Homo sapiens: one gene and its partners. The protein of the gene in region 6 interacts with the protein of the main gene of each other region in a pairwise test. Each region holds a gene or a part of one and is shown on either strand. Other genes may lie near its edges.

What was found.
Region 1: the proteins of GLE1 (region 6) and HSD3B2 interact in binary tests that used the Homo sapiens proteins (3 or more experiments, as listed by UniProt).
Region 2: the proteins of GLE1 (region 6) and ZKSCAN5 interact in binary tests that used the Homo sapiens proteins (3 or more experiments, as listed by UniProt).
Region 3: the proteins of GLE1 (region 6) and GKN1 interact in binary tests that used the Homo sapiens proteins (3 or more experiments, as listed by UniProt).
Region 4: the proteins of GLE1 (region 6) and TEX35 interact in binary tests that used the Homo sapiens proteins (3 or more experiments, as listed by UniProt).
Region 5: the proteins of GLE1 (region 6) and ZNF57 interact in binary tests that used the Homo sapiens proteins (3 or more experiments, as listed by UniProt).
Region 7: the proteins of GLE1 (region 6) and SNAP91 interact in binary tests that used the Homo sapiens proteins (3 or more experiments, as listed by UniProt).

What each region holds. Positions count from the first base shown.
Region 1 is NC_000001.11:119,413,332-119,418,159, reverse strand, and holds the start of HSD3B2 (3 beta-hydroxysteroid dehydrogenase/Delta 5-->4-isomerase type 2), read right to left. Parts: upstream 3,011-4,828; 5' UTR 2,958-3,010; intron 2,830-2,957; 5' UTR 2,741-2,829; coding exon 2,599-2,740; intron 1-2,598. UniProt on the Homo sapiens protein: 3-beta-HSD is a bifunctional enzyme, that catalyzes the oxidative conversion of Delta(5)-ene-3-beta-hydroxy steroid, and the oxidative conversion of ketosteroids.
Region 2 is NC_000007.14:99,510,585-99,514,970, reverse strand, and holds part of ZKSCAN5 (zinc finger protein with KRAB and SCAN domains 5), read right to left. Parts: intron 2,519-4,386; coding exon 2,380-2,518; intron 1-2,379. UniProt on the Homo sapiens protein: May be involved in transcriptional regulation.
Region 3 is NC_000002.12:68,977,123-68,981,849, reverse strand, and holds the end of GKN1 (gastrokine-1 precursor), read right to left. Parts: intron 4,356-4,727; coding exon 4,302-4,355; intron 4,214-4,301; coding exon 4,076-4,213; intron 2,980-4,075; coding exon 2,869-2,979; intron 1,938-2,868; coding exon 1,790-1,937; intron 1,122-1,789; coding exon 1,027-1,121; 3' UTR 874-1,026; downstream 1-873. UniProt on the Homo sapiens protein: Has mitogenic activity and may be involved in maintaining the integrity of the gastric mucosal epithelium.
Region 4 is NC_000001.11:178,518,907-178,523,292, reverse strand, and holds the end of TEX35 (testis-expressed protein 35), read right to left. Parts: intron 2,922-4,386; coding exon 2,857-2,921; intron 2,621-2,856; coding exon 2,419-2,620; intron 2,072-2,418; coding exon 2,029-2,071; intron 1,622-2,028; coding exon of another isoform or gene 1,569-1,621; exon of another isoform or gene 1,481-1,568; intron 969-1,480; coding exon 853-968; 3' UTR 643-852; downstream 1-642.
Region 5 is NC_000019.10:2,906,984-2,911,369, reverse strand, and holds part of ZNF57 (zinc finger protein 57), read right to left. Parts: intron 4,263-4,386; exon of another isoform or gene 4,211-4,262; intron 4,145-4,210; exon of another isoform or gene 4,126-4,144; intron 1-4,125. UniProt on the Homo sapiens protein: May be involved in transcriptional regulation.
Region 6 is NC_000009.12:128,531,560-128,535,945, reverse strand, and holds part of GLE1 (mRNA export factor GLE1), read right to left. Parts: intron 3,282-4,386; coding exon of another isoform or gene 3,255-3,281; intron 2,434-3,254; coding exon 2,291-2,433; intron 2,186-2,290; coding exon 1,995-2,185; intron 1-1,994. UniProt on the Homo sapiens protein: Required for the export of mRNAs containing poly(A) tails from the nucleus into the cytoplasm. May be involved in the terminal step of the mRNA transport through the nuclear pore complex (NPC).
Region 7 is NC_000006.12:83,552,194-83,556,438, forward strand, and holds the end of SNAP91 (clathrin coat assembly protein AP180), read right to left. Parts: intron 4,053-4,245; coding exon 3,960-4,052; 3' UTR 3,950-3,959; intron 2,093-3,949; coding exon of another isoform or gene 2,078-2,092; 3' UTR 692-2,077; downstream 1-691. UniProt on the Homo sapiens protein: Adaptins are components of the adapter complexes which link clathrin to receptors in coated vesicles. Clathrin-associated protein complexes are believed to interact with the cytoplasmic tails of membrane proteins, leading to their selection and concentration.

The DNA of each region.
Region 1 (4,828 bases), on a different chromosome or scaffold from region 6:
GGATGTAACATCCATATCTTCAGGCTCCTCTGAAATCCACAGGTAGTGACGCTGCCGGTAAAGTTGTCACCTGGAATTAGCCCACAAAATGAACACCATGCTACATGGAGCTCAGATAAATACTCTACACTCATTTGTGCTTTATAATCTGCATACGGCTCACAGCTTGCTTATTTCCTTTTACAGCTATCTCGTGAGGTAGGTATTCTGAGTCCCACTTTATTGGTGAGGAAACTGAGGCTCAGAGAGGTTAAGGGACAGATCTAAAGTCAATTTTCTAGTGAAGGCTCAAACCTGCCCATTCCACCTGCCATTTTTGTACCCTGTACCCCAGGTGCAGGAATAGCTGTTTAGAATCAACTTTTCTGAGAAAGAGTAAGAATAAGCCAGTTTAACTGAAAATGCCCACAAAGGCCAAAGAACAGTGAGAGCGAAATTCAGAATGAAAAATTCAAGGCTGGAGAAATTCCTTCCTGGGATACAGGTGGGACCATTTGCTCTTCTGATGCCTCTGCCTTGTTTTGTCTACTCCCAGCCCCTTCCCACTGTCAGGCAACTCCAAGAAGGCCCTGGAATGGTGGAGGCAGGGAAGAGGCTGCTGGGGAGGAGGTGGGTGTCAGCCCGAGAGTGGAATTTTCTCTGGTTGTATTTCCACCTCTACCTTTTCTACTCCCTTCATCTGCTTCTCCTTTGCTGCCGACTTTAGACAGACTGGCTCAAAGGAATTGCCATTTCATAGCAGAAGTCCAAAGCCGATAGAAAATGACTCTTCCCCGGTGAGTTTCCATGGATCTAGAGAGACCAGAAAAGCGCAATTTTTGATGGAGTCTTAGCTCCCTCCTTCTCCAAGGCACTGTGGACTTGGCAAGTGTTTCATGTAGACTAAATTCAGTTGCTTTTGTGTTGTGTGTTGGGCTGGAGGGAGGCTCAGAGAAGCTGCTAGACAAACTACTACTTAAGAGCACAGAAGCTGCACTAGACTGCCTGGATTCAAATCCAGCTTTGCCGTAATCTAACTTGGGACCTTCGACAAGTTGATTAACCTCTCTGTGTCTGTCTCCTCATCTATAAAAAAGGAGGATAATAGTATTACCCATCTCATAGGGTTGTTATGGGAAGTAAATGAGTCAGCACATGCAAAACCTTTAGCACAGTGCCTGGCACAGAAAGAACACTGAAAGGATTCTCTGTTTTTATCTTCATACAGGCCCTGCCCATCCATTATGCTCCCTGCATTTTCACCATAGCAGAACTCTTCCTCTAGACTGAGCATTGCTTTTTCCTGGTATCAGATGTTAGATTGTAAATATTGCTGAGACATAAGGATTACAAACATTTAATATCAGTCATGTGTTAATATCTGTTCACTATTAGAACAGAGAGTGGAGGAAATTGGACATTTAAAGAGGTCAGAGAAGAGTGAAAGAAGAGGAGAGTGTCAAGGGGAGCTTCTGTGTGAACAGGGCAGGACCTTCTAGGCAGCCAGAACCTGCATGAAGAAGATACATAGTTCCCCCAGTCCCCTGGGTTGGGAGGAAAACATGGAATTGGTTTGGGGCACACAGAGAGGCAAAGGGAGAGACTGAAGACCCACCAAGGATTAGCCCGGGGGTCAAGTGATGAAGCTTCTGGAATGAAGCTCTGGTCTGAGCTCTGCTACACATTAATCAGCTGTTCTTGGCAAGTAACTTTATGTTTCTGGAACTTGATGGGTTCATTGTCCAGTTGGAGGTGACCCCTTTTCTACCTTCCTCACAGGGTTATTTGCACAAAGAGTTACTACAGCAAATTCTGCAGTCAATTTATTTGGAGTATTGAACAACAGATACAAATGGTTTTTTTTTAAAAAGGCTATATATGAGAAATATAAATGAGGCATGTTGGCCTCATACTGCCTTTTACTCTGTCTCTGCTCTGTGCCGTGCACTTGTGCATGCTCTCTTTCTCTCTTTCTCTCTCTCTCACTGATGATCTCTCTCACTTTCACTCTCTCTCTCTTGCTGATGCTCTCCCTCACACTATCTTTCTCATTCATTCTCTGTCTTTCTCATTCTCTGTCTCTGACCTTCTTTCCCCCTCATTTTCTTTCTCTGTCTGACACACACACACAATTACACACACATCCGTACCTTCACTTCCTTTTATTTTGCCCTCACTAAAGATACTAAGGAAGCTATAAAATGAAATGAAGCCTGGGGCAGTCTAGACAGGCAGGACCCACTGGTGAGGTCTCCAGGTAAATGATGTCCTTTGTGAATGTCGCACAGCAATCGCCAAGACAAAAAGCTTCAGAACATAAGAGTTGTAGACAAGAAGGAGAACTCATGTGTGACTCTCTAGAAGAGAAGAAAAGGGGCCTTGAGGCTGACATGGCTGCCTCTCAAGTTCTGCGTCAGGGCCAGAATCCAGTCTCTGGACACCCCATCCAGTATCTTTCACACTATACCATTTTATTCTATTTCCTTTCTGATGACTTTAGATGTGTGACTGGCTTTCATTTGGCTACAACTTTCCTTAACTTGCTAGACAAGGTCAACCTCCCCACACCCATGCAGAGTTTAAGATGGAGCCACAGACCCATGACTCAAGTTTACTTACTAGAAAATTCCTCTCTCAATTCTGGTCTGAAGGCCTTGTCCAAGGCCCTGATCTCCTTCAGTTCCTTCTCTTCCACCAACAGGCGGACGATCCTCTGACCCAGAAGCCCTCCTGCTCCTGTCACAAGGCAGCTCCAGCCCATCGTGGCCAATCCAAAGTAGCAGGAAACACTTGCCAGGAAACAGAAGATGCTGGAGAGCAGATCTGATTCTAGCGTGACCCAGAAGAGGGCTAAAAACAAGAGGTAAAATGGTTATACACTCAGCAGATGCCTTATTTTCCTCCACCCCATTTTTTACAAAAATTCCATGACCCCACAACTGCCAGGAGTAGTTGAAAGAAAAGGAGAAAGCTCTAACCGTAACTTAGATTGTTAAAAGCTGGACAGAGGAGTCCAAGTCCTTACTGCCTCATCCCTGGAGGAAGGACTGGAGCTTTATGCTCTGTGGCTTGTGTCTCAGCCCTTATTACCTTGAACTCCTGCCACATACTCATTGCTCCCTCCTCCTCCAGAATCCCTTTTCTCAGAATAATAGTGACCTTTAGGTTATATCTCTAATTCTTCCCAGGAACAGGAAGAGAAATCCAATCTTAAGGCCACAGTGTGATAAAGAGTCTTGGCTTTAGCCTTAACAGAACACTGGTCAGTTGATACCAGCTGTCTGGGATCTGCAATCTGTGAACTTAAACCAAACTGGGAGAAGTCTCCAAGTGCAATGTAAATGTTGTCCTTGTACAGTAAATCCACCTGGAGGGAGATCTATTTTAGCCCATTATCAACTCTCTGAGAGTGTCATTTGAAACGTCACTGCTGTCTTGCAAAGTTTAGAAATTTTCAATGGTGACAGCTCCAATCACTAAGTTTTATGTGAGGTGACTTTCTTTTCCACCCAATATATCCAAAACCTCAATTGCAATTTTTCCCTGGAGAGCTCTGGGTTCCTAATGGAAGAACCTCATTGAAGGAAAGGTATCTAGTGATAACGAATTAATCATATGGCCTGTAATACAAGTGTGGGGATTTGTAGTTGTATGCCCAATGACTCTAATCATAGATATTTGCACTCATCTTACATTTTTGGCTGCAAAACCATTCTTAGCAAATTGTTGAACTGAAGATGCTATGAATGCTTCTGAAACCTATGCCCCAGTCTGCCCAAACATCACTGCCATAAACTCCCCAAGACACTTTTCTCTACTTAAAAAAATAGAGATGTAGTTTTTTTAAGTAGATGTAATCTGGGCATTACAAGGCCCAGATCTTAAGCGTTCAGTGTACACTTAAGTGTTCATTGTCAATGAACCTTGACAGTTATATATGTCCATGTAAGTACCAACGAAAAGAAGACCACCATTTCCTTCACTCCAGAAAGTTTTATCTGCCTGTTCTTAGTCAATTGCCTGCCCTCCCCCGAGTTTACCTGGTAGGCAATTACTTTCTGATTTTTATTCCCACAGAGTTCCCACTTTATTCCTATATTTTCCTAATTTTTTCTTCTAAGATCTTTGTGATTCTGGATATATATTTAAATATAAAATCATTCTGAACTGAAGTTTTGTTCATGGAGTACAGAAAAATTGACCACTGATTGTCTCTATTGTTTGTTCATTTTTCTATTTCATGATTTTCATTATTTTTATTATTGGCTTAAATGTTTATTAACTTTGGGTTTATTTTACTCTTCTTTTTCAGGGTTCTTATGATAAAAGCATAGATAATTGACTTTACTTCTTTGCTCATTTCCACCATAGGCATTTAAAGTTGTAAATTTCTCTCTAAACACTATGTTAGCTGTATCCAACATTTTGATGCATTGGGTTATCATTATTCAGTTACTGACGTTTTGAATTTTTTCTTGTGATGTCTTCTTTGACCCAAGTGTTATTGAGAAGCATGTTGCATGTTTTCTAAAACTGGGGATTTTCTTATTGTTATGTATTTCTAATTAAATATTATTGTGGCCAGAGCATATACTCTGTATGATTTTGATTCTTTGATATATATTGAGATTTGTTTTATGGTCCAGCCTATGGTCTATGTTGGTGGAAATGCCATAAGCACTTCAAAAGAATGCTTTCTGAAGTTGTTGGAAGTCATACTCTACAAATGATTTAGCTTGACTCCCCATTCTGGGTCTTGCCTTTCTCCTGTGTGTAGACATTCACCTTCTACTTGGAACCTGGCTGCCAATGCTTCAAACCCACTTGCCTAGGAAAGGTTGGTCCTGTG
Region 2 (4,386 bases), on a different chromosome or scaffold from region 6:
ATAGCCGGGACCACAGGCGTGTGCCACCATGCCTAGCTAATACATTTTTTTTTTTTTTTGAGACAGAGTTTTGCTCTTGTCACCCAGGCTGGAGTGCAGTGGTGCGATCTCAGCTCACTGCAACCTCCAACTCCCGGGTTCAAGCAATTCTCCTGACTCAGCCTCCTGAGTAGCTACTAGGATTACAGGCATCTGCCACCACGCCCGGCTAATTTTTTATATTTTTAGTAGAGATGGGGTTTTGCCATGTTGGTCAGGCTGGTCTCAAATTCCTGACCTCAGGTGATCTGCCCGCCTTGGCCTCCCAAAGTGCTGGGATTACAGGCATGAGCCACTGCACACGGCCAATTTTTGTATTTTTTGTAGAGGTGAGTTTTCGCCACATTGCCCAGGATGGTATCAAACTCCTGGGCTCAAGAGATCCACCTGCTTTGGCCTCCAAAAATGCTGGAATTACAGGCATGAAGCTACTTTCTTTTATACCAAAAAGATCGCTAACACCTTTGTTTAGCTTTCATTGAACACGGTTGAGAATTCCAAATTTTTCATTTGCTGCCCACATTGGCAAAGAGAGGAAAATTTGAAGAGGATGACTATTATTAGGCAACTCAGTAGATGACACAGAAAGACAGCTGTACTCTCTAATGAGAATCATGAAACTGAAAGTGTAACAGAGATTCTAGAATGAGTTTCAAATGATAACATCCTAGATAAATTTTCTTAAACTCAAGAATCAATGATGAACAATGTATTTCTAATTTCAAAAAGGGAAATGGCATTCTTATCTTGTGAGTCATTCAACAGCAAGGACTTCATCACACAGTATTTTGTAATAATAAGATAATAAGAGATTCTGGACCATCACATTTTGCTAGAAGGACTAAATTTGCTAAAAGCATTGTGTGACAGTATTCTTTTCTTTTTTGAGACGGAGTTTTGCTCTTGTTGCCCAGGCTGGAGTCCAGTGCCACGGTCTCAGCTCACTGCAACCTTTGCCTCCTGGGTTCAAACGATTCTCATGCCTCAGCCTCCTGAGTAGCTGGGATTACAGGCACGCACCACCATGCCCAGCTAATTTTTTGTATTTTTAGTAGAGACGGTGTTTCATCATGACGGGGTTTCATCATGTTGGCCAGGCTGGTCTTGAACTCCTGACCTCAGGTGATCCACCCACCTTTGCCTCCCAAAGTGCAGGGATTACAAGTGTGAGCCACTGAGCCCGGCCTTGTTTTTTTGTTTTTTTAACATAAGCATTAAGACAAGAAAATCTATGAGGGAGGCTGAGCGCAGTGGCTCACACCTCTAATGCCAGCACTTTGGCAGGACAAGGTAGGTGATCACTTGAGGCCAGGAGTTCAAGACTAGCTTGGCTAACATGGTGAAACCCCATCTTTACTAAAAATCCAAAAATTAGCTGGGCATGGTGGCAGGCACCTGTAGTCCCAGCTACTCAGGAGGCTGAGGTGGAGGTATCACTTGAACCTGGGAGGCAGAGGCTGCAGTGAGCCAAGATCGCACCACTGCCCTCCATCCCAGGCAACAGGGTGAGACTCTGTCTCAAAAATAAAAGAAAGACAATCTATGACAGAAAGGCAAAAATCTGTGATACTTTTGTAAAAGACGTGTAGATCTTTTAACAGTCCCTGTACCCAGAGCTGTCATCATTTGCGTTGTAGGTTTTTAATGAAACTGGTGTAATTCAGCAATAAACATACGTGTGCATGTGTCTTTCCCAAATGTCCAACAATGATAGACTGGATTAAGAAAATGTGGCAGTACACCATGGAATACTGTGCAGCCATAAAAAATGATGAGTTCATGTCCTTTGTAGGGACATGGATGAAATTGGAAACCATCATTTTCAGTAAACTATCGCAAGAACAAAAAACCAAACACCGCATATTCTCACTCATAGGTGGGAACTGAACAATGAGAACACATGGACACAGGAAGGGGAACATCACACTCTGGGGACTGTTGTGGGGTGGGGGGAGGGGGGAGGGATAGCATTGGGAGATATACCTAATGCTAGATGACGAGTTAGTGGGTGCAGCACACAAGCATGGCACATGTATACATATGTAACTAACCTGCACATTGTGCACATGTACCCTACAACTTAAAGTATAATAATAATAAATAAATAAATAAATAAAAGAAAAAAAAAGAAGCTGGTGTAATTCCTAGCCATTCTAGGAATGGCTTTCATTGAACACCAGGGACTCAACTCCAGGTCCCTGGCCTTTCCCTGCTTCTAGACCCTGCAGGCTGTAGAGAGGCTGCTCAGCCTAGAGTCTCTCTCCCGCAGATAGTGCCTGCCACATGGCCAAGGCACCCACTCTTGAGCTATATCAGTTCCACTGAATCACTGAGCCTCACCATTTTCCTCCAGGAGACGAGGCTTCTGTGGCGCTTGCTCAGGCTGGGTGTCCACGGTCAGGGGATGGGGGCTGCAGGACTCCTGCACTGCTCCAGGTGTTGCCATCTTCCGAGGAAGCACATCAGGGCAGGCAACAATCTAACAACCACAACCAAAACCGATCAGTACAGTTACAGAGAAGGCCACGAAAGAAATCAGTAGAATCATGGTGGACTTTCATTCATTCCTTTGCCAAATATTTAATGTGCATCTACAATGAGCCACGCACTGATTATGCAGTTACTTAATAAACATGGTTTACTTCTAGTTGGAGAAGACGTTCATCAAACACATCAAAACACAAATAAATACATAATTACAAACTGGGCTGTATGTTGGAAAGGAGAAGAAACTAATTCCATGAGACAGAACACAGGAGACCTATTTTAGACTGGGAGGCCAGGGAAGGCTTTCTGGAGGAAGTGTCCCGTAAGCAAACACTTAAAGGTTGAGAAGGGCTGGGCGCACGGGGTGGCTCACGCCTGTAATCCCAGCACTTTGGGAGGCTGAGGCAGGTGGATCACTAGGTCAGAAGATCAAGACCAATCTGGCTAACACGGTGAAACCCCGTCTCTACTAAAAAAATACAAAAAAATTAGCCGGGTGTGGTGGTGGGCGCCTGTAGTCCCAGCTACTCAGGAGGCTGAGGCAGGAGAATGGCATGAACCTGGGAGGCGGAGCTTGCAGTGAGCCGAGATTGCGCCACTGCACTCTAGCCTGGGTGACAGAGCGAGACTCCGTCTCAAAAAAAAAAAATGGATGAGAAGAAGCCAGCCGGGAAAAACGTAGAAGTGACCCAGGCAGAGAGAACACTGAAACGGTAGCTCATGCCTATAATCTCAACACTTTCGGAGGCTGAAGCAGGAGGATCGCTTGAGCCCAGGAGTTCAAGACAAGCCTGGGCAACACAGTGAGACCCTGTCTCTCCAAAAAATTAAAAAATTAGCCAGGCATGGTGGCATGTCCCTGTGGTCCCAGCTACTTAGGAGGCTGAGGTGCGAGGATCGCTTGAGCCCAGGAGGTCAAGGCTGCAGTGAGCTATGACACACCACTGCACTCTAGCCTTGGTGACAGAGCAAGACCCTGTCTCAAAAAAGAAAGAAAGAAAGAAAGAAAACAAAATTCTCAGGCAGAAAGAGGATGTCTAGTACAGTCAGGAATCATGAGAAGGCCAGTGTGTGAAGAGGAAACAGAGGTGAGAAGGGAGATTGGAATGGTCATCATAGCACTCAGTAAGTCACACTGGACAGACCAACACTGAGACTGAGGCTACCTCACACCCCTTCTGTTTTTGGTTCTTGCTCAGCCCTAGATATACACAATTACTCTGCCACAACCACTCTCTAGAACCTGGAATTCTGGAAGGTACTAGCTCACTACTAACATATTGGAATGTAGTAAGTTCCTTTCCCCTTTTCTCCCTCCCTTACATTTCAAAGCACTTTTTTTTCGAATCCTCCTGCTACTGGCAAAATGTGGTGCAGGAGTTCCATTAAGAGACAGCTGCAGGCCGGGCATGATGGCTCATGCCTATAATCCCAACACATTGGGAGGCAGAAGCGGGTGGATGACTTGAGCTCAGGAGTTGGAGACCAGCTTGGGCAACATGGCGAGACCACACCTCTACTAAAAATATAAAAATTAGCCAGGCCTGGTAGCATACATCTATATAGTCCCAGCTACTCGGGAGGCTGAGGTGGGGAGGATCGCTTGAGCCTGGGAGGCGGAGAGTGCAGTGAGCTGAGATTGCACCAATGCTCCAGCCTGGGTGACAGAGCAAGATTCTGTCTCAAAAAAATAAATAAATAGGCCAGGCGCAGTGGCTCATGCCTGTAATCCCAGTACTTTGGGGGGCCGAGGCGGGCAGATCACCTGAGGTCAGGAGTTCGAGACCAGCCTGACCAACATGGATAAACCCCATCTCTACCAAAAATACAAAGTTAGCCTGGTGTGGTGGTACATGCCAG
Region 3 (4,727 bases), on a different chromosome or scaffold from region 6:
CATTTTTCCAAATGGTGAGAATCAATGTCTTTAGTTTTATTTGTTAGGATTATTTGTGGCTATTTCACCTGAAGACATGAGAATGGATTAGATATTCCCCTATGGCACTGGGGATTAAAAAAAGATGTATGGGGGCAGCTTTGAAAAGTTAACAGTTTTATATTGTAATACACAATATTTAGAGTCTCTATTTTCTCTGAGACCTTTCACTTTCCTGGCCATCAGTGAATGGAAGTTGCTAACTTTGAGCCAAACAGGATCAAGGAAAATGGAATTGGGATTCAATATGAGTTATTACCTCTTGAACTGGAAAGACATGTAAACACGAGAGATGAGGCTGAAAATTTGGGTCAGCCATTCTGTGCCATGAGCACAAAAAAATCCATCCGCAATATGCGAAAAAGAGGGAAGTAAAATTTAGAGAAGAAGAGAGAAAAGGTAACGCGTGGCTTCAGGGAGAGAAGCAGACTTGGGTCTTGGTGTCAGCAGAGTTCCTGGATGTAGTTTTTTTGATAACCAGCTGCTTTTCTTGCCCTCAGATTTTTTGAGATATTCTTATATCCTTGCAATAAACCACCCTTTCTTGCTTATGTGACTCTGAGTGAATTTCTGTCCTTGCTGATCTGAAACGTTACTGTGCACAACAACTATAGAGCAGCCTTCAGAGCAGTTGGAGAGTATTGGAACCATTCCCAGGGTTGTGGTTAGTGGTGTCTGAAGCACCTGAAGGGGTTCTTTACAGGAGACAGGTCTTGAATATAGGCTAGCAGTTGAGTCTAATGCACTTCAACAACTTGCCACCACCACATTGCATTTTTGATCCTGTGCATTCCAAGTCATAAGAAATTGTAAGAAATGTGAGTATACACTGAATTCAATGCTAAATGATTTTATTGAAACTTAAAGAAATCAAACATAACTAGTAGAGAAAAATTTCAGAATGACATGGTAAAAACCACTGGAGCCCATATTTTTTCTGCACAGCATATTCAGATGACTAAATCCATAGTGGCTTTAAAAAATTGTTTAGTTCTCCACCGTGTCTCCACAGAAGGAAATGTCCACAATCCATAGTACACTGGTCGTGTAGCACGTTCCTGAGTAAAAAAACAGGCTTGCCTCTAATAAAGAGAAAAGAAGAAGCCTATATTAATGTCTATTTAAGGACTCTTTTCTTGGAGGGGATTGGGGGAGTAGGGGTTTCCAAACTAGCTATGTGCTAATGTCAAGGTTTATCTACTTGTTGTGATGAAATCAATCAATTCAGAGATCTGGAAAATTGCCATTAAGTTAGGTCCCTAGGTAGACACTTTGTTTGTGTGCAGCTGTTCTTTGAATGTCCAGAAATTAAGTGATTGTCTGAGCTATAGAAAGTTAATAGATTCTATTAGCATTCTTCTTTCATTTAGCCATTCATGCATTCTTTTGAATATGACTTGAGTCTACTCTTGATTCACACTTAAAAGGCAGTGTTCCATAATATTTAAGAGCACAGAATCCACAGCCAAAATGCTTGGAATTGACCCAGGCAAGGATTTTGTGACCTCTCTGTACCTCAGTTTCCTCATCCATAAAGTAGGATTAAAATAGAACCTATAAGATTGCTGTGAAGAACCGAGTTAACACACTTAAAGCACATAGAACAGTACCTGGCACAGAGCAAGCACTGCACAAATGTTGGCCTTGATGACCATCCCTGCATCACTGGTGCCCACTATGGACACGCGCGAGGATAGTCTGACAATCCCACCAGCACTAACTTGGGGTGCACAGTAGGGATGCTACTCACCTTGCATCTCCTCAGCCATGTATGTTGGAATCCCACGACACATGTTTGCAATGTTTTTTCCGAACTTGCTCAGGTCATCGACTTTGTTTGGGTTGACTGAGTACATCAGGCCCTTGGGAGGTGGTCCTCCTGGTCCCTTACCCTGAAGCTGAGTGTGGAAAAGAGAGGTAGAAAGGAAGAATGGGAGAGAATGAATGCCAAGCCCAGTGGTTTGTTGACTTGAGGGGTATACGAGGCCAACAGTGAGTGTTGCTCAGCTAAATTTTTCCATAATCAAGATGAAGAAGAGCCATTTCTAGCTTATTCTGTATATCTTAGCATTTCTAAGTGTCCTAAGGGATTTAGCTGGTTTGAAACCTCAGCTTCTCATAAACACAGAAGTCTGAGGCTTAATTTATTCTGCAACTTGGACCTCATTTGGTCATCATAGATTCCTTGGATTAGACTATGTAATAATCATCTTCTGAGAATGCAGTTTATTTATTTTCTCTACCTTGTCAATGAAAGGTACTCATTTATCAGTTATAGGAATATGAACTCAGGCAAATATTTTAAAACATTATGGATCTCTTCTTTCCACTCACCTGGATTAGTATGGCCAGACAAAATATACAATACCCAGTTACATTTGAATTTCAGATAAACAATGGATCTTTTTTTAGTATATCCCAAATATTGCATAGGATATATTATACTAAAAAGACCTGCTGCTTACCTAAAATTCAAACCTAACTGGATATCTTCTATTTTCATTTGCTAAATCTAATAACCCTAACTAACTCTTGCAGAAAAATGTCCTTGGCAAAGTACTGAGGCTCCTATTGGTGTGACCAGAGCTTTGCTCCTCTAACAGTCAAGGTTTCAAGTGCTTTGCTCAGCGGTTGTAGAGGTAGGTGTGAGCCACAGCATTTGATGTGGCAGAAGTTGCCTTCCCTCAGGCAATCACCAATAACTTCCCCCTTTGTGCTGCACACTACAACATACTGTAGTCAAGAGGGAATGACTGTGATCTTCTCGTTATTTACTGAAGGATGTAAAACCTCTCCCCTCACCAAAAATAAAAAGCCTTTTATTTTTACCTTCTTTTCCTTGACCAGTGCATCAAGGGATTGAATGGAGGGCATGACTTCCTTGTTCATTTTGTGCACAATGCATGTCTTCTTTTGAAAGAGTCTGGTTGCAGCAAAGCCCTGTTAAAGTAGATGGCAAATAGTGAGGCATGTGTTCTCCGAGGAGCTTTTCTTATCAGAGGTCAGTTCCACCTGCAGAGAGAAATGGGAACTCCAAGATCGTGATGAGCTGGGATAAGAGCACTGGATGGGGCACTGCTTGGCAATCATATCTATTGCTGACATTTGTGAGGACAGACTGCAATTCTGTGAGGGCAGAGACTGAGCATCTAACTGGTTTGCTTTATTTCCAGGTTCCAGCATGATAAAAACCCCTCTATATAAGTCTGTTTTACTGAAATAGACTTTAAAAGCTATCATGTTTTAGTCTCCTTTGATCCTCACATTTCAAGGAGACAGATAAGACAAAAATTATTTTTCCAATTGACCAGATAAAATTGAAACAATAAAGAGTTTGCTATTTAAAAGTATAACGTTTGTTAAATATATAGCTGATAATTCCAGAGTTGGGTCTCCTAACTAGTGCTAAGTGTTCCTTTCTTTGCTCCTCTCTTTCTTTGCTTCTCTTTTCCTTTCCTTCTCTCTTTCTTTCCTTCTCTCTTTCTCTCTTTTTTCTTTTTCTTTCTTTCTCTCTCTTTCTTTCTTTCTTTCTTTCTTTCCTTCCTTCCTTCTTTCTTTCTTTCCTTCCTTCTTTCTTTCTTCTTTCCTCTCTTACCAATTAATATTGTCATTTACATTTCCCGAGTTTTAGGTGAAATGTCAATTTCAATCTCTTTAGAAGGTCGTAAAACCTCCTTTGAAAACAAAGTGAGATAGTCTAAGCTTTGGAAGCAGTAATGTTGTATAAGTCTTTCAGCATTATTGAGGGTATCTGCAGGCAAGGCAAAAGGATGTTCATATTTGTTGTATATACCCACAATCCCTTGAACATAGTGTTTGTTGGTTTGAATTTTAACTGATCATGCAACACTTATTAACAGTAGTTATCTCTAGGGAACAAAATCGGATGAGCAAAATGGTCACCTTTACTTATAACTGTATGCTATGTGTAATTAGAATTTATTTTTAATTTCTTTATGGTTAACATGCACATTTTTTGTTAAAAAGAAATCGTATTTTTAAACAATAAAGTGAAAATTGCACGTTGACTACCTACATTTCCATAATCCCAGATGGAATTCCAGGAGTCCCATCCGTTGTTATTGTCAACATTGGCCACATTGTGTTCATTGTTGACACTCACTGACTGCTGCCCACTTCCAGCATTGTTGTTGTCATCATTGACGTTGATATTCTGAAGTTTATAAGAGATTGAGAGTGATTTAATATCACATTTCCTTGCAAATGCATTTTGGTAGCAAACTTGAAAAGGTGAGACTTACATAGTTAGCTAGGGCAGGAGCTAGAAAGACTCCAAGAAGTCCAGCAAAGACAATCTGAAATCACAAATAACATTGGTCTCCTGTTACATGGCAAAATGATGTCTTCTTTCTTCCTCTATCCAAGCTTATGAAAAGTATTCACTAATTTTACCAATGTGTTCAGTTCTAGTTCAATGTGTTTTTTTCTTCTCTTACCTTGCATTTTTTAACCATAAAGGTTTTAACGATAATGTGAAATTGCTGATTAATTATAAGTAATTATATTAATGTGATATATAGTTTTAGAATTTTTAGTGTAGGCCTTATGAAACGCTGGAAAAATTGATGAAGAAGGGAAGTTGAGAGCCAGGAAAGCTGCTTTCATCTCATTGCCATCCAGTACTGAGGAAGAAAATGTAATTTTCAAGTAGTGATAAATCAAATTAT
Region 4 (4,386 bases), on a different chromosome or scaffold from region 6:
AGAAAATCAGCATATTGAAGAGATATCTGCACTCTCACATTTGTTGCATCACTGTTCACAATAGCCAGGATTCGGAAGCAACCTAAGTGTCATCAACAGATGAATGAGGAAAATATCGTACACACACACAATTGAGTTCTATTCAGCCATAAAAAGAATGAACTCCTGTCGTTTGCAACAATGTGGATGGAACTGGAAATCATTATGTTTAGTGAAATAAGCCGGGCACAGAAAGACAAACATCGCATGTTCTCACTTATTTGTGGGATCTAAAAATGAAAACAATGAAACTCATGGATATAGAGTAGAAGGATGGTTACCAGAGGCTGGGAAGGGTAGTCAGGGGCTTGGGGGCCGGTAGGGATGGTTAAGGGGTACAAAAAATAGAATAAATTAGACCTACCATTTGATAGCACAACAGGGTGACTACAGTCAATAACTGTACATTTTCAAATAACTTAGAGCGTAACTGGATTGTTTGCAACTCAAAGATAAATGCTTGAAGGGATGGATACCCCATTCTCCATGGCATGCTTATTTCACCTTGCATAACTTTGTCAAAACATCTCATGTACCCCATAAATATATACACCTACTATGAACCCACAAAATTAACCATAATAATAAAATTCCAAAAAAAAAGAACTTGGCCAATTATTTATTAGATGGTAGAAGCAGCCAGCTTAGCAAAGAGATGAAACAAGGAGGAACTGGTGTGAAATAAAATATGAAATCCCATCATTCCTCGTCCTTCAAATTGAAGCCAAAGAATCACACCCAGGGCAGGACAGTTTCTGAAACACTGTTTGCTCTGTATCTTCTTTACTCTCATTTCAAGCTGGCAGTTAAGCTTCACCTTCCCTCAGTCTGGGACTTTGGGGCAGGCACAGCGTGGCCCACAGAAGGTTGGGTGGTCACTGGCTCCTCTCCACCTTTGTAAAGGCCTGAGGCCTCTGAAGGAATGTTCCCTTTGGGGGTGGAGGGAGGGAGAGGAAACCTTCAAGGGGGTGAGAAGGGTGGATCCCCAGAACCCAAGAAAGCTACCCAGTTCCTATGAGCAGCAGGGACCTGAGTCCTGCTTGGTGACAAGACCTCAGAGGGGTGTGGTGCAGGCAGAACTCGAGGCTGAGGGGTTCCCTGCATCACCCAAGACACCCTGGCCCCATGCACAGGTGGAGGCTGATTATGTGGAGGGAGCGGATGGGCCAGGCAGCAGGGTCTCTCCTGAGACCACACAGACTGGCGTCCGCTATCATCAGGGGCCCTCCCCATGCTATGACCTGGGACGTTTGCAGACCCAGGTGGAATGGAGGGAGGTGGTGGTTGGGAGGACCCTAAGATGACTAAGATGTAATTTCCCACCAATCCATCAGGAAGCAGGGGGAAGGGTTGGAGTCTGAAATACACTGATATAGAACCAAAAATAATCAACCTCCACACACTCAAGTTTTGGACTGGTACTCAAAACCATGACATCCCCTTTGGCTTTGAATGAAGGTTTTTAATCTCCAGTGGAGGCCTGGGGTTGGGGTGGTATTTAACAGGACAAGAAGCCCTGACTGTGCATCTTAAGGAGCTTGGAGGTGATGAATCGGAACTGCTGGTAGGTTCTGCAGCTGCGCTAGGTTGGAAACACATATTCGATGTCACCGGGGTTGAGGTACAGATAAATCAGAAGGCAGCTCCAGAAGCCAAGGGTGAAAAGGGTGCCCAGACCTGGTGTGAATATTTCCCACTGGATGGGGAGAAAGGGCAGGACCTGAGGCAAGGTCAGTTCCGCCACTAGTGGTGCACCCTCCCCACCATGGGAGCCCCAGGCAGCAGCCTCTAGGCTGGGTGACCCAAGTCCTCCTTCCTGGTGCCACATCCTGTATGACTGAGCATGCTGGGTGGCAGCATCTGCTAACAGTCCCTACTCCTGGCACAACCTCAGGAGGGGTGTGATGTGAATGCGGCTGGGAGCACATGGCCTTGGGGACAACAAGGCACCTGATCGAGAAAAGGCACATCTTGTATGAATCTACCTACCCCGATTGTAGTTGTTCTTTAGAGCACACAACAAACATTTCTCCTGCAGAGGACAGAAACGGCACAAGAAAGATCAATTTCCCCTGGTCCAAGAAGGGCAGCCTGCTAGGCACCTTATCTGCCCTTGCTAAAGGGAAGGACAGAATAAGAGGGTGGAGCTGGCGGGTAGGCCCATCCAGGGTCAAGTCCTGCATGGTCACAGCTAAGGAGGCTCCACAGGCCTAGAAGGCAAGGCAGGTCAGGGAGGGCGCAGGCTCGGGCGGCACCCAGAAGTCAGCAGCGGGCGGACCTGTCCCTTCACTATGATACAGCACAAGCTCGGGGAAGTCACCAGGGAGCCGGAGCCAGGGGTCTGGCACCAGTGCTGGGCTCGGGCAGGGTTTCACTTACGCAGCAGGTCCCACAGTGATGAAGGGGATCCAGTGAGCCCTGTTTTGTTTTTTGTGGTGCCATCGTCTTCTTGTGAAGAGCACAGGGTGCTCCATTGACTCCACTGGCTCCATCCATTTTCTTGGGCCTGAGCTGTGGTTCTCTGTGAGTCTTTCCCATCAGCCTGAGTTCCTGCTGCTCCTTTGGTGCTCTTCTAAGGGGACTGGGGGAGGAGGGCCAGGGAGGGGCAGAGAGTTGGGGAGACATTTTGCAGCATGACAAGGAGATAACCAGTACACGGGTGGCCATGGAAGGCCTTGACTCCAAGTCACAGGGGCAGTAGGAGCAAAGACAACTCCTCCAAGAGTCTGGGTGTCCTCTGAACCCCAAAGGGATCCAACAAAGGGAAGGGAGGAGACCCTTTAGGGATGAGGAGAGACGAGTGCAGGTTACACTTACAGCTTATAGTTCTTCTGTGTATTTATTAAAATGTCCATCTTCTCATCCATATCTTTCTGCATTTCCTTCGAGAGAGAATTCAGAACTAGCATCTTCATTTTGAAGGACTTTGGAAATACCTTCCTCCTGCCTCTCTGCAAACCATTCTGCATCTTACTTCCTCAAGAATCCTCGCTAGACTTGGGTGAGGTGGCTTTTGGAGTGTCCGTGACATGTACAGCTTCTCCCCTTCCTCATCCCCCTTCCCCAATGAGACGAAAGCACAGGCAGAGACATTAGGGGACTTTTCTGAAGTCTCTAGGTGAGCCAGAGGCCAGCTACTGTTTTATCTGATCTCACACTTTGGATAAAACCAATGCTTGCCTTGGTTTGATGCCTATAAAATGATGGAACCAAGAAGACCAATCTTGTGACCCCAAAGACAATTTGACTGCAATGTTTTGACCCTTGGCATGCACCCAGATCCTGCATATTTATGTTTGCTTCATCTTTTACCTAATTCCTGGCAAAGATGGTCAACAAAAAGTAAAATGACAGCAGCTAAAGGGATACATCACACGTATTATTCGCTCAGAACAGAAGGAATAATAAAATCTTGACAAAGTTTTGATCTATAAAATGTGACCTGGGTAAATTGAATGGAAATAGTGGACATGAGAAAAATTCTAAGATGGTAGAAGCTATAACTGACAATATTTGTCACAGAGAAAAACAGGTTTGGGTTGTCATAAAACAGAAATAAAAACAATTTATTCCAATAAAATAATTTTCATTAAAAATGAAAGATTTGGTAACAGTTTAATTGATGTACTATAGAAAATTGATCAAGAAATTACACCATCTGCATAGAGATGATTTCATAAAATACCTTCTTGAAAAGCATTTTTAAATGTTAGTACAAATTTGAATAAAATATTTGTATTCATAGAGTCAAAATATCCTTGAAGTCAATGTCCCCTAGGTCCAAAACATCAGAGTCAAAATGTCCCATATTCTTACACGTTTCACCAACATGTACCCCTTCAAAATCATCATGTTCCAAACTGATTTCATTTTCCCAAGCTACCTCTATCTCCCCACTGTCATTGTCATCGTCACCACTTTCTTTTAATCAACCAGATTAAAATTTGGTGTCATCACGGACGCTTGCCTCTCAAGACTTCAGTCTCCATATTGAATCAGTCACCAGGAACTGTTATTTTTCCCTCAGTGCATCTTTCAGATTTATCTCTTCCTTCTTTCCCTACACCTGGTCCAGCTGTGGTGTTCTTGCTGTCAGACATCTCCACCTGCTCCCTGGGCCCCACCCAGGCCGCCTTGCAAACAAAACCTGCCGGGCTAAGCTTTTTGAAGTGCTCCTCCCAGAATGTTCTTTGATTAAGAATCTCCAGAGGCCTCTTGCTGCTCACAGAACCAAGTCCTAGCTTGTCTGCATGTCTTTCAAAAGCCATCATTACCTACAGCCTTTGTGCCCATTCATTTTTTTTTTCCCTCACAGTTTCCCCCAGTGGTCCCACTTCATGACTGATC
Region 5 (4,386 bases), on a different chromosome or scaffold from region 6:
TTGTAGAGACAGGGTTTCACCATGTTGGCCAGGCTGGTCTCAAACTCCTGACCTCAGGTGATCCACCCACCTCGGCCTCCCAGAGTGCTGGGATTACAGGCATGAGCCACCGTGCCCGGCCACAAAAAGTTTTTAAAAATAAGCTGGGCTTGGAGGCATATACCCTGTGGTCCTAGCTACTTGGGAAGCTGAGGTAACAGGATGGCTTGAGCCCAGGAGATTAAGGCTGCAGTGAGCCATGATTGTACCACTGCACTCCAACCTGGCTGATAGAGCAAGACCCTGCCAAATAAATAAATAAATATCTCTAGGGCTATCACTAAAAAAAGGAAAGAGAAGCATACCTGACTTGCTAAGAAAGGAGAAAAAATGGAATCACACAAAACATGCAATCAAAACCAAAAAAGGCAGAAAAAGAGTGGAAGACAAAATAAGGAACAACGAACCAGGGCAACAAAAACAGAAAACAGTAACCAGGCCGGGCCCGGTGGCTCACGCCCGTCATCCCAGCACTTCCGGAGGCCGAGGCGGGCGGATCACGACGTCAGGAGATGGAGACCATCCTGGCCAACACAGGGAAACCCCGTCTCTACTAAAAATATAAAAATTAGGCCAGGCGCATTGGCTCACGCCTGTAACCCCAACACTTCGGGAGGCCGAGGCGGGCAGATCACGATGTCAGGAGATTGAGACCATCGTGGCTAACATGGTGAAACCCTGTCTCTACTAAAAATACAAAAAATTAGCTGGGCATGGCGGGGAGTACCTGTAGTCCCAGCTGCTGGGGAGGCTGAGGCAGGAGAATGGCGTGAACCCAGGAGGCGGCGCTTGCAGTGAGCAGAGATCGCGCCACTGCACTCCAGCCTGGGAAACAGAGTGAGACTCTGTCTCAAAAAAAAAAAAAAAAAAAAAGAAAAGAAAAGAAACAGATCAAGCACGTGGAACATCAATAAGCACAGAGTTGAATTCAACAGCACCCCCAATGATGAATGTCTGTAGACAACTTCAACAACAGCAGAAAACACATTCTTGTCAAGCTCACGTGGAACACTCCTCAACCTAGACTGTATTTTGGGACATAAAACACCTTAACAAGTTTAAAAGAATATCGTACATCATATGCTCTTAGACAATACTGGAATTAAATCAGCATTGCCCTAAAATAAAACATACAGGTATAAATCTAACAAAATGTGCACAAGATCTTAGGAAAATTGTAAAACTCTGACAGAAGAAATCAAAGAACTAAGTGAATAGTTATTCCATGTCCACGTATAGAAGACCCAATATTGTCAAGACATTGGTTCTTCCCAACTTGATCTATAGATTCAACACAATCCCAATCAAAATCCCAGCAAGTTATTTGGTGGATATTGACAAACTGATTGTAAAGTTTATATGGAGAGGTAAAAGACTCAAAATACCAACACAGTATTGAAGGGGAAGGTTCAAGTTGGAAGACTGACACTATGCATTTTCCAGGCTTTCTGGAGAGCTGTAGTCATCAGGAGAGTGCGATGTAGAGTAAAGCATGTACAAATAGGCCAGGTGTGGTGGCACATGCCTGTAATCCCAGCATGTTGGGAGGCCAAGGTGGGAGGATTGCTTGAGCTCAGGAGTTTCACATCACCCTGGGCAACACAGTGAGACCCCATTTCTAAAATTAAGAAAAAATTAGCCAGGTGTGGAGGCTAAAGACCTTAAGACAACTCATCTGTGAAGATATAGATGGCAGATGAGTATATAAAAAATGCTCCACATCATGTCATCAGGGAAATGCAAATTAAAACAAGATACCGGCCAGGCACAGAGGCTCATGCCTGTAATCCTAGCACTTTGGGAGGCCGAGGCGTGCGGATCACGACGTCAAGACTATCCTGGCTAACATGGTGAAACCCCGTCTCTACTAAAAATACAAAAAATTAGCCGGGCGTGGTGTCGGGCGCCTGTAGTCCCAGCTACTCGGGAGGCTGAGGCAGGAGAATGGCGTGAACCCAGGAGGCAGAGCTTGCAGTGAGCCGAGATCGCGCCACTGCACTCCAGCCTGGGCGACAGAGCGAGACTCTGTCTCAAAAAAAAAAAAAAAAACAAAAATAAATAAAATAAAATCTATTATAAGGAAAAAAAGTTAACATAGTATTATCAAATGGAAATTCCACTCCTAAATATATACTGAAGAAATTTGAAAACATTTAAAGAAACATTTGTACCCAAATGTTCACAGCAGCACTATTCACAATAGCCAAAAGGTGGAAACAACTCAAAGTTGATCAACTGATAAACAAAATGTGGTACAGCCCACACAGTAGATATGACTCAGCCATGTAAGGAATGGAGCTCTAACAGGCTAAAACATGAATGACCCTGAAAACATGCCCAGTGAGAGAAGCCGTCAGAAAAGAACACATATTAGGATTCCATTCATATGAAATGTCAAAAGAACAAAAGAATAAAAAGGAAAAAAAGAGAAACAACATACGAAATGTCAAGAACAGCCAAATCTCTAGAGACAGAGGCAGATGAGTCATTTCTTAGGGTGGTGGAGGGGCTCCGGGGCAATAGGAGAGTGATAACTGAAGGGTCTGGGGGTTTCTTCGTGAGGTGATGGAAATGTCCTCAAGTTGACTGTGGTCTTGGTTGCAGGATTCTGTGACTGTAAAAACCAATGGCCGGGCGCAGTGGCTCACACCTGTCATCCCAGCACTTTGGGAGGCCGAGGAGGGCGGATCACGAGGTCAGGAGGTCGAGATCATCCTAGCTATCTCTACTAAAAATGCAAAAAATTAGCCGGGCGTGGTGACGGGTGCCTGTAGTCCCAGCTACTGGGGAGGCGGAGCTTCGAGTGCGCGCTACTGCACTCCAGCCTGGGCGACAGAGCAAGACTCCGTCTCAAAAAAAAAAAAAAAAACCAAAAAAATAACAACAACAATGAAATGTGCACGTTAAATGGCTGTACGTTCTATATGTCAGTAAAGCTGGTTTTTAAAAAACATAAAGAATGTGAAGTTCACTGTCTTCCTCAAAAACATGATACACAAAATGAAGACGCCCATGACCTCACCTCTAGTCAACGTTATACTAGTTCCAGCACCACCAGGAAATATACAAGAATTATAAAACATAAACTTGTCTTTTTGCAAATTTCTAAGAATTATGCACATAAAACCCCAACAGAACAAAGAGATAATCCTAGAAAAAGATTTTTACCAAGATTCCAAGAAATTGCATTATGTTTCTACTTCATAATAGTTGGAAAATTAATTTTTAAAAGCTGATACATACTATGGGAAAATCCAAAGTTAAATAAGTACTTAAGGCTAGTAAAGGATTTCAATGGAGAAACAAATCTTGATTGGGGCCCTGTGAGGTGGTTCATGCCCATAATCCCAGCATTTTGGGAGGCCGAGGCAGGAAGACTGCTTGAGGCCAGGAATTTGAGACCACCCTGGGCGACATAAGGAGACACAGTCTACAATTTTTTTATTATTTTTAAAATTAGCCAGGCATGATGGCATGTGCCTGCAGTCCTAGCTACTAGGGAGGCTGAGGCAGCAGGATCACTTGAGCCCAGGAGGTTTCAGTGAGCTGTGATCACACCACTGTACTCCAGTCTGGGCAACAGAGTGAGATCCTCTCTTAATGAGACTTTTTAGGACTTGACAAAACTACTTTCCAAATCTAACAGAGAAAAAGAGTCTAAAAATAGCCAAAACTTTCCGAAGAACAGGGTGAAGGCTTACCTAACACAGGGCAAGGATTTAAGAGCTGTCAATCTTGCCAGTACAGTATTAGCAGAAGGATGGACAAACGAACCAATGGAAAAGAATGGATCTCTCTGTGACATAACGATAATGAAAATCCTACTGAAGTGTAGGATGGGGGAAAAATAATTCCTATGACATTATGAAGTGCAAGAGGGTAGCTGGCCTTGGGGATGAGAGGGTTTTAGATTTTAGAGATTTAATTTGCGCTTTCGGAAGAGCCAGGCACGGGGACAGGCTCGTGGGCCTGCTGCAGAACTTTCCAGGTGGGGCGAGCTGCTGCACCCCACTAGACTCAAGTCCCCACCACTTTGTTCATATTTCTGGTCGTTATTTGAAGCAGCAGCCCAGGCAGGAAGCATACCTCATTTATCAACACCCACGGCCAGAGCAAGCCTAACACTTTTTAGGTCTATCTGGGTTTTGGAGAGAACGTATTCCTCACTTACAGGTTTTACTCTGACCCATCTGTGCGATCAGAAATCAGCCTACTTGTGGGACAACAGAGGTTCTAGATTCTGTGGAAAATGCAATGACGACAGGATTCCACTCTGCCCCGCCCCCACCCCCCGCCTGGACTCCTCTGGAGAGGTTCTCGAAGCCTCCGCTCCAGCCTCAGGGAATC
Region 6 (4,386 bases):
GGAGTACAGTGGTATGATCAAGGCTCACTGCAAACTTCACCACCCAGGTTCAAGTGATCCTCCCGCCTCAGCCTCCTGAGTAGCTAGGACCACAGGCACATGCCACCATAGCCGGCTAATTTTTTTTTTTGAGATGGAATTTCCATCTTGTCGCCCAGGCTAGAAAGCAATAGCACGATCTCAGGCAATCTCCGCCTCTCGGGTTCAAGCGATTCTTCTGCCTCTGCCTCCCGAGTAGCTGTGATTAAGGCACCTGCCACCACACCTGGCTAATTTTTTGTATTTTTAGTAGAGACAGGGTTTCACCATGTTGGCCAGGCTGGTCTTGAACTATTGACCTCAGGTGATCTGCCCGCCTCAGCCTCACAAAGTGCTGGGATTACAAATGTGAGCCACCGCGCCTGGCCTTTTTTTTTTTTTTTTGAGACAGAGTTTCACTCTTGTTGCCCAGGCTGGAGTGCAATGGCATGATCTCGGCTCAGTGCAACCTCCACCTCCTGGGTACAAGCGATTTTCCTGCCTCAACCTCCTGAGTGGCTGGGATTACAGGTGCCTGCCACCATGCCCAGCTAATTTTTTGTATTTTTAGTAGAAACGGGTTTTCCCCATATTGGCCAGGCTGGTCTCAAACTCTTGGCCTCAGGTGATCCGCCCGCTTTGGCGGCCTTGGCTTCCCAAAGTGCTGGGATTACAGGCGTGAGCCACCGCGCCCAGCCAACACCTGGCTAATTTTGTAGAGACAGGGTCTCACTATGTTACCCAGGCTGGTCTTGAACTCCTGGGCTCAAGCGATCCTTCTGCTTCAACCTCCCAAATTGTTAAAGTAATTACAGGCATGAGGCACTGCACCTGGCCCAGAGATTACTTTTTATGGCTAAAAAATAACAATATATTATTACACTCAGCATTACTATTAATATATTATTACAGGCCGGGCGTGGTGGCTCACGCCTGTAATCCCAGCACTTTGGGAGGCCAAGGCGGGCAGATCACAAGGTCAAGAGATCGAGACCATCCTGGCCAACATGGTGAAACCCCATCTCTATTAAAAGTATAAAAATTAGCTGGGCGTGGTGGTGGGCGCCTGTAGTCCCAGCTACTCGGGAGGCTGAGGCAGGATAATCACTTGAACCCAGGAGGCAGAGGTTGCAGTGAGCTGAGATCACGCCACTGCACTCCAGCCTGGGTGACAAAGCGAGACGCTGTCTCAAAAAAAAATAAAAAAAATAAAAAATATGTATATATATTATTACATATTATTACATCTGTAGAATACTTTGTTTACCAAGCACTCATATCCATCATCAAATCTGAGCTTCATGTAAGCCATGAGGTAAATTCACAGGAGGTAATAGATGTCATTACCCTCATTTAAAAATCAGGAAAAGATGCTCAAAAAGACTAAATGATTTGTCCATTTTTGCAAAGGTATTAAATGACAAAGCAGGGATAAAATTCCAAGACCCCAGTATCCTTTCCACTAAACTACATTGACTACTGGCACCTAAGTTCACAAATCCCAAAGGCTCTCCAGTTTACATAAAAGACTATGTATATATATTTTTTCTTTCTTTTTTGAGACACACTCTTGCTGTGTCACCCAGGCTGGAGTATACTGGTGCGATCTTGGCTCACTGCGACCTCCGCCTTCCGGGTTCAAGCAATTCTCGTGCCTCAGCCTCCTGAGTAGCTGGGACTACAGGTGTGCACCATTACACCTGGCTAATTTTTGGTATTTTTAGTAGAGATGGCGTTTCTCCATGTTGCCCAGGCTGGTCTCAAACTCCTGAGCTCAGGCAATCCACCCAACTTGGCCTCCCAAAATGTTGGGATTACAGGCATGAGCCACTGCACCCGGCCGAAAGACATTATATTTCTGATAGAACATTCAAGGTACGTAATAGGAGCTGTGAGGAGGGAAAAACAAATTCCAATTCTATTTATATTTCATTAATCACTCTAGGGATAGTGAGTAGGGAGAAAAACAACTTTACCTCTGATAGTCTTCCAAAGCCATTCCCTCCTTGAAAGTGGGATAGAAAGGAACAGAGTAAGGACACTTCTTATGTAGATGAGCAAGAATGAGGTCCCCCACTCTGGGGTGGAGCTCCCAGATCCCGGATGCCACAACTGCAATGGGGAATGCTGCTTCATGGTGAGAGGCCACTTCCTCCTCGCCTTGTTTCTGAGAACATAGAGGTGGGTACAATTTTAACTTAATACCAGAAAAAGGCTGAAATCTTGTACACCAGCCTCTGCTTCCCATACCTCTAGCAACAAGGTTTCTCACCACAAATTTCTCTGCCAGTTTGTATTGAACAAAGTCCAGCCCCTGTGGGTTAAGTGTGACAGACACAGAGCGCCCACCAGATTGAACAGGTTTTCCAGAGAGCAGGCTGTGGATCTTGTCAAAGATCTCCTTCAGTTTTGAGCCTGAGCATGATAGAGAGAAATTAAAAGATATAACCACAGATCAATCTCTTTTTCTTTTCCTTTTTTTTTTTTTTTTTTTTTTTTTGAGACAGTATCACTCTACTGCCCAGGCTGGAGTGCAGTGGCACAATCTTGGCTCACTGCAACCTCCGTCTCCCGAGTTGAAGCAATTCTCTGCCTCAGCCTCCTGAGTAGCTGGGATCACAGACGCCCGCCACCACACTGGGCTAAGTTTTGTATTTTTTTTTTTTTGTAGAGATGGGATTTCACCATGTTGGCCAGGCTGGTCTCTAACTGCTGACCTCAAGTGATCCGCCCGCTTTGGCCTCCCAAAGTGCTGGGATTACAGGCGTGAGCCACCATGCCCAGCCTGTTTCATCATTGTAATTACAAAGCATCTACAAAAACCCAGCTGTGCTGCCCTACAGAAATGAAGGGATAAACAGTATCCCTTACTGTACACATAAAATGAAGGGATAAACAGTATAGAAAGAGGTGTTACATTTTGTTACAGACCCCATGGACTGTGGTTGGTATCTCTAGAGGAGTTAGTCACATCTCTAGGAAAAACCTTCTAAAGGATCTAACCAGCTCATGATGATATGCCCCCTTCTCAGGACTTGCCTTCTTCCGTCCTCAGAGACACAGAAGTGGATTCGTAACAGCTATATTTGTACCAAAGATTTTGTGTGCTCCACCCCCACACTAGCTACAGTTAGATTAGAGGCAGTCAAGCTGAGCCAGTCAGTCAACTAAGAGTCACTTCCTTGAGGTAGCTGGCCCTGTGTCACATACACTCACAAGCAGTGGGGGCTGCGTACCTGCCATGAAGACCAAAGAACGGCAATCTATAAAATAAGAATGGAGATGTAGAGAGGACAGATGAGATGAGAGAGGAAAAAAGAACTAAAGTTTCTAGCTCCTGAGACCTCACCTCATTCCTGCCACTGGGTTCTGTAGGATATTTCTTTATCTTTCCAATAAATGCTTTTTTTTTTTTGCTTAAGCAGATCTGGGCCAGCACTTTGGGAGGCCAAGGCAGGCAGATCACTTGTGGTCAGGAGTTCGAGACCAGCCTGACCAACATGGTGATACCTCGTCTCTACTAAAAATGCAAAAATTAGCCAGGTGTGGTGGCGGGTGCCTGTAATCCCAGCTACTCGGGGAGGCTGAGGCAGGAGAATCGTTTGAACCCAGGAAGCGCAGGTTACAGTGAGCCGAGATTGTGCCACTGCACTCCAGCCTGGGTGACAAAGCAAGACTCCATCTCCTCCCTAAAAAAAAAAAAAAAAAAAAAAAAAAAGCAAAGCAGATCTGAATTACTTTCCATTACCTGAAGTCCTGAAGTCAATGTTTTAATTAATACAGCATCTCCAGTTGAGAAATACCCTGTCAAGTTCCTAATCACTTCAAGAAATGTCACAAAAGTTTCAGAAATATCCTGTCATTCAGTTCTCTTATCAAAAAAAAAAAAAGCCAACCATGTGGACCCCACTGGCTGAATGCCCCATCTAGCATCTAGCCTCTCTCCATACCTCTCTAGGTAGGAGGAAAGTTAGTTAGCTTCCAACCCTAGACTGACGTGGCCTCCCCATGCCACAGCAACATCATGTCCTTATTTAAGATTTCTTCTAATTCTAACCACTCATGGACATCCATCTTTTTTTTTTTTTTTTTTTTTGAGCTGGAGTCTCACTCTGTCACCCAGGCTAGAGTGCAGTGGTTCGATGTCACCTCACTGCAACCTCTGCCTTCCGGGTTCAAGTGATTCTTCCACCTCAGCCTCCCAAGTAGCTGGGACTACAGGTGTGTGCCACCACGCCCGGCTAATTTTTGTATTTTTAGTAGACACGGGGTTTCACCATGTTGGCCAGCCTGATCTCAAACTCCTGACCTCAAGTGATCTGTCTGCCTCATCCTCTCAAAATGCTGGGATTACAGGTGTGAGCCACC
Region 7 (4,245 bases), on a different chromosome or scaffold from region 6:
CAAAGACTTGGAACCAACCCAAATGTCCAACAATGATAGACTGGATTAAGAAAATATGGCACATATACACTGTGGAATACTATGCAGCCATAAAAATGGATGAGTTCATGTCCTTTGTAGGGACATGGATGAAGCTGGAAACCATCATTCTCAGCAAGCTATCGCAAGGACAAAAAACCAAACACCGTATGTTCTCACTCATAGGTGGGAATCGAACAATGAGAACACTTGGACACAGGAAGGGGAACATCACAGACCGGGGCCTGTTGTGGGGTGGGGGGGAGGGGGCAGGAATAGCATTAGGAGATATACCTAATGTAAATGACGAGTTAATGGGTGCAGCACACCAACATGGCACATGTATACATATGTAACAACAAACCTGCACGTTGTGCACATGTACCCTAGAACTTAAAGTACAATTAAAAAAATAAATAAAAGAAAGTTCACCATAAAAATACATATACATTTTGAAATATGGAATTTCAACTCATTTGGCAGCAGTTACAGAGACCCAAGTTTAATGAAGGCTTGTTAAAGTTGCTCTTTTTCCTTGTTTTTAATTTTTTATAAAATAATCAAAACTCTATTGGCATGAACAGCATTTTAAAATCTTCAGTATTTTGTCTGCTGTGTGTGTCATTTGAAACAGACCTTTTTCCCAAACATAATCAAAGAGAGAAACGTTATGTTTGCATTTCTTTGTTCAAGGTGTTTATTGCATCTCAGAGGGCGTACATGCACTGGGTTTTTAAACTGAAATACAAAGAAAGCCATTTTGAAATTGGTTTTAGGTAATTTTTCCCCATTACAGTGTATGTTATCCCCACAGTAAATTCAGATACAACCACTTTTAAATGGTACCATACATCTATTAAATAATTTGAAAAATAGGCAAACACCTTTCCAACCCAATATGCTTTTATGAAGAGCTGCCAAGCTACTAGCAACACTGATCAACAGTGACCTCATTTATGCATCAAAATCTTAAGCCAAGCCATCAGCACAGACAGTATGACAACAAATTAAAACTTAAAGAATACAGTATGTACAGTAAAAGATACAATTCTCTGAATTAGTTTAAATCCTAATCACAATGTTACAACAAAACCTACTTTGAGCTCAGTTGAAGGATGGAAGAACACTAGTCTACAAAACACACAAAGAAACACTAAATTAACAGATGTACTAAAAACCCACAGTAAAGTAAAGATATTTGCAGTAATCTTTAAATTACAGATATACCTTGGGGTGCCTTCAGAATCACTTGAATAGCACCTCTCTAACCGCATTTTCATGAACATGACACAAACAGACCCTTTACTTTTCAGTGCATTTAATCAAGAATGAATAAATAGGTCAATTTAGATGCAAAACCTGTCAAATATAATTAAAATATATATATTTTAATATAGCAGTGATAAATAGGGGATTCTTCCCATACGATTTTTCGTTCTTGATAAGGTAGCTTCAAAGAGAAGTATTTATTATGGACGTTAACCTTTATATTTTTTAAAATAAAATTTCTTAACATATACAGTGCCACAAAAATAAACATTTCTCACAACAGTTGAAGTTCCTGTGATTGGAAAAATGTACTCCACACTGAAAAAGTTTTGTATATTTATGAGTGTTTTCCTTATTATCTGGTATTATCACACTACGCTTGTAACAGAGATACAGAAGAAAAGATAATTTATGGGAAGAGTTTGGGGTTTGTTCAAAAGTTATATGTACATTGAAACCTTCAAAAACACAGACGTCTTTCCAAATAGCTCGCCACACAACAGCTGCATCATCTGTCCTCAGGTGAAGTCCAAAAAAGCACTAACGGCATCAGTAACATCCATTCATTGTTTACATCGTACAATACACAAATAATCCAAATACACTACAATTTCAAGAGTAGGGATAACAGCTAAGGTAGTACATATTCCTAATGTTCACTTTCACGGCTGTGTTACACATTTTGGAAGAGAAGTTATGAGTAAGTATTGGGTTTGGTACTGGTGGCTCCCTTTGAAACTCAGCATCAATCTTATTTGAAGTCTCCAAACTCATTTATTTTCCTATTCAGTCACAAATATTGCAGCTGTAAAGAAAACAAAAACTAGAATTAGAAAACAAGATTATTACATAGTCCTCAAACATTTTACCTCCCTTGCAATTTTACTTCATAGTTTCTGAAAACAACTTTTACATAAAAAGGTCTCTGCATGGACAAATTCAAATTTACATACTTTTCATAGCTCTTTAAAACAAGCTTAAAATTTTTAAAGTTTAGCCAGAAATTAAAAAAAAACTTTTGATGTATAGTTTCATTTTAGATAATAATTATATCAACAAAAATTTGAATTTAGATACATATTAGAAATTTTAGTAGCAGGACATTCGGTATAGCATTCAGTATCTAAGAGCAGCCAACCTTTAAAAAGGGCAGCTAAAGAAAAAGGGGGCATGGCAATGACCTTACATTATTTTTTCATGTATTCAGTTATGGTGTTCAATGAGTCACTTTCTAAACAGCTGAACCAGTGACAGAATAGAAGAGAACAGAGAGATCCCTGGCGACCCGATGCCTTTCCTCAGCCACTTCCCACTCATCTCCCTGGCTAATTCATGCATCATTCATTTCTGCTGGAAACATTTGTGGGGTCTTAAGGCTTAGCCGCATAGATAACTCTTCATAAAATAGTAATTCTCTCTGTGTCTCTGTCTTTGTCTGTCTCTGTCTCTCTTTCTCTTTGTCTGTCTCTGTCTCTCTCAGGCAAGGACTGTCTCAAGCATATCTGTTTCCTGTACTTATCAAAGTTCCTGGCATATGATTAGGGCAACATTTACTAAGTAAGAGGTGAATACAGGCTGCTCTATGCAGTTTCCTTGGTCACTCCTGAAACTATTAAGTGTTCATTGTCTCACTTATGTCTACATTAGCCAATCCAAAGTGGAATAGAAAAGTTGGGCATAAGGAGAGTTTACTTGACTGAGATGTTAATACCTTAGAATAATGCATCATTAATCTTGTATAAGAAAAAAAAAACAAATCAAGAATCCACAAAAATCTTAGTAGACATTAGGGAAGGGTTTTAAGAAATATATGTAGCACAGCAGGTGCATACTGAAAACAACATTGGACAAGAGTCCAAAAACACTGAGCCTCTTACAATTCTTCCCTGTGGGACCCTGGGCAAATTCCTTAATGCCCAAGGATCAGTTCTTTTAGCTGTGAAATGGAGACAAAAAATATCTGGATAGTTTATCTCACATGACTGTTCTATTGAGAAGTGGATGTGAAAAGTACCGTGTAAATTATGTTCATCCATTCAGCAAGGATTTGTTGAGAACCTACCCACTGTGTTAGGTGCTGGGGTCAACAGTAAACATTTTTCCTTCATTCGTTTCCTTCCATAACTTCAGCATGAGTCATTTCATAAATTATATGAAATTTGTGAAATTTAAAACTAGAACATTAGAAATTTAAAACTCTGCTTGAATGCAGAAATGTAAAGGGTAATAATCTAAGCTTTATGAGGCAAAAGAAGGATAAACAAAATAAAAATACAATTATGCAGTCAAATATATTCTTAGATGATTTCTAAATGCAATAGTATAAATGTTAGCTTTCTATAAATTCAAGTCATCATGTAATAAAGTGGTAATTTTCTAATTTACCAAGTAGCTTGGGCACCTTTTTGCTTTATTAAAGCTAATCGTTGTGCTTTCCAGGATAAGGACAATTTGGAGGTTACTTTCCCTCCTAGTTACATAAATTAAGATTTAAAAAACTCTTAAAGAGAGCTTTTAATATCAAATTTAAAAGTATAAACACTCAAATTATTACTATTATACACAGCTATTCAAAACGCAGAAATAATGAGTACCTCTGAAATAGCTAAGCATTGTATAGCTCATTATTACAAGCCTACAGGAAAAGCTCAATATTAGATACCTTAAATTGTTTACAAGAAATCCTTGATGTTAAGATCCGCTAATGGGTCCTTTGCTGGAGGTTTCTTGGGACTCTGACTGGCAGGTGTAGGGCTTGGAGAAAGCTAATGGGAAAAAGCCAGCCCCAAAGAGCAGGAATAGAAAGCAGAGAGAGAATGAGACATGGGGGGAAGAGGGGGCAGGGGGAGAGAGGGAGAGGGGGAGAGAGAGAGAGAGAGAGAGAGAGAGAGAGAGAGAGAGAGAGAGAGAGAGAGAAAAGCATTAGGCAGAACACATATCAAAGAAAACAAACCTGCA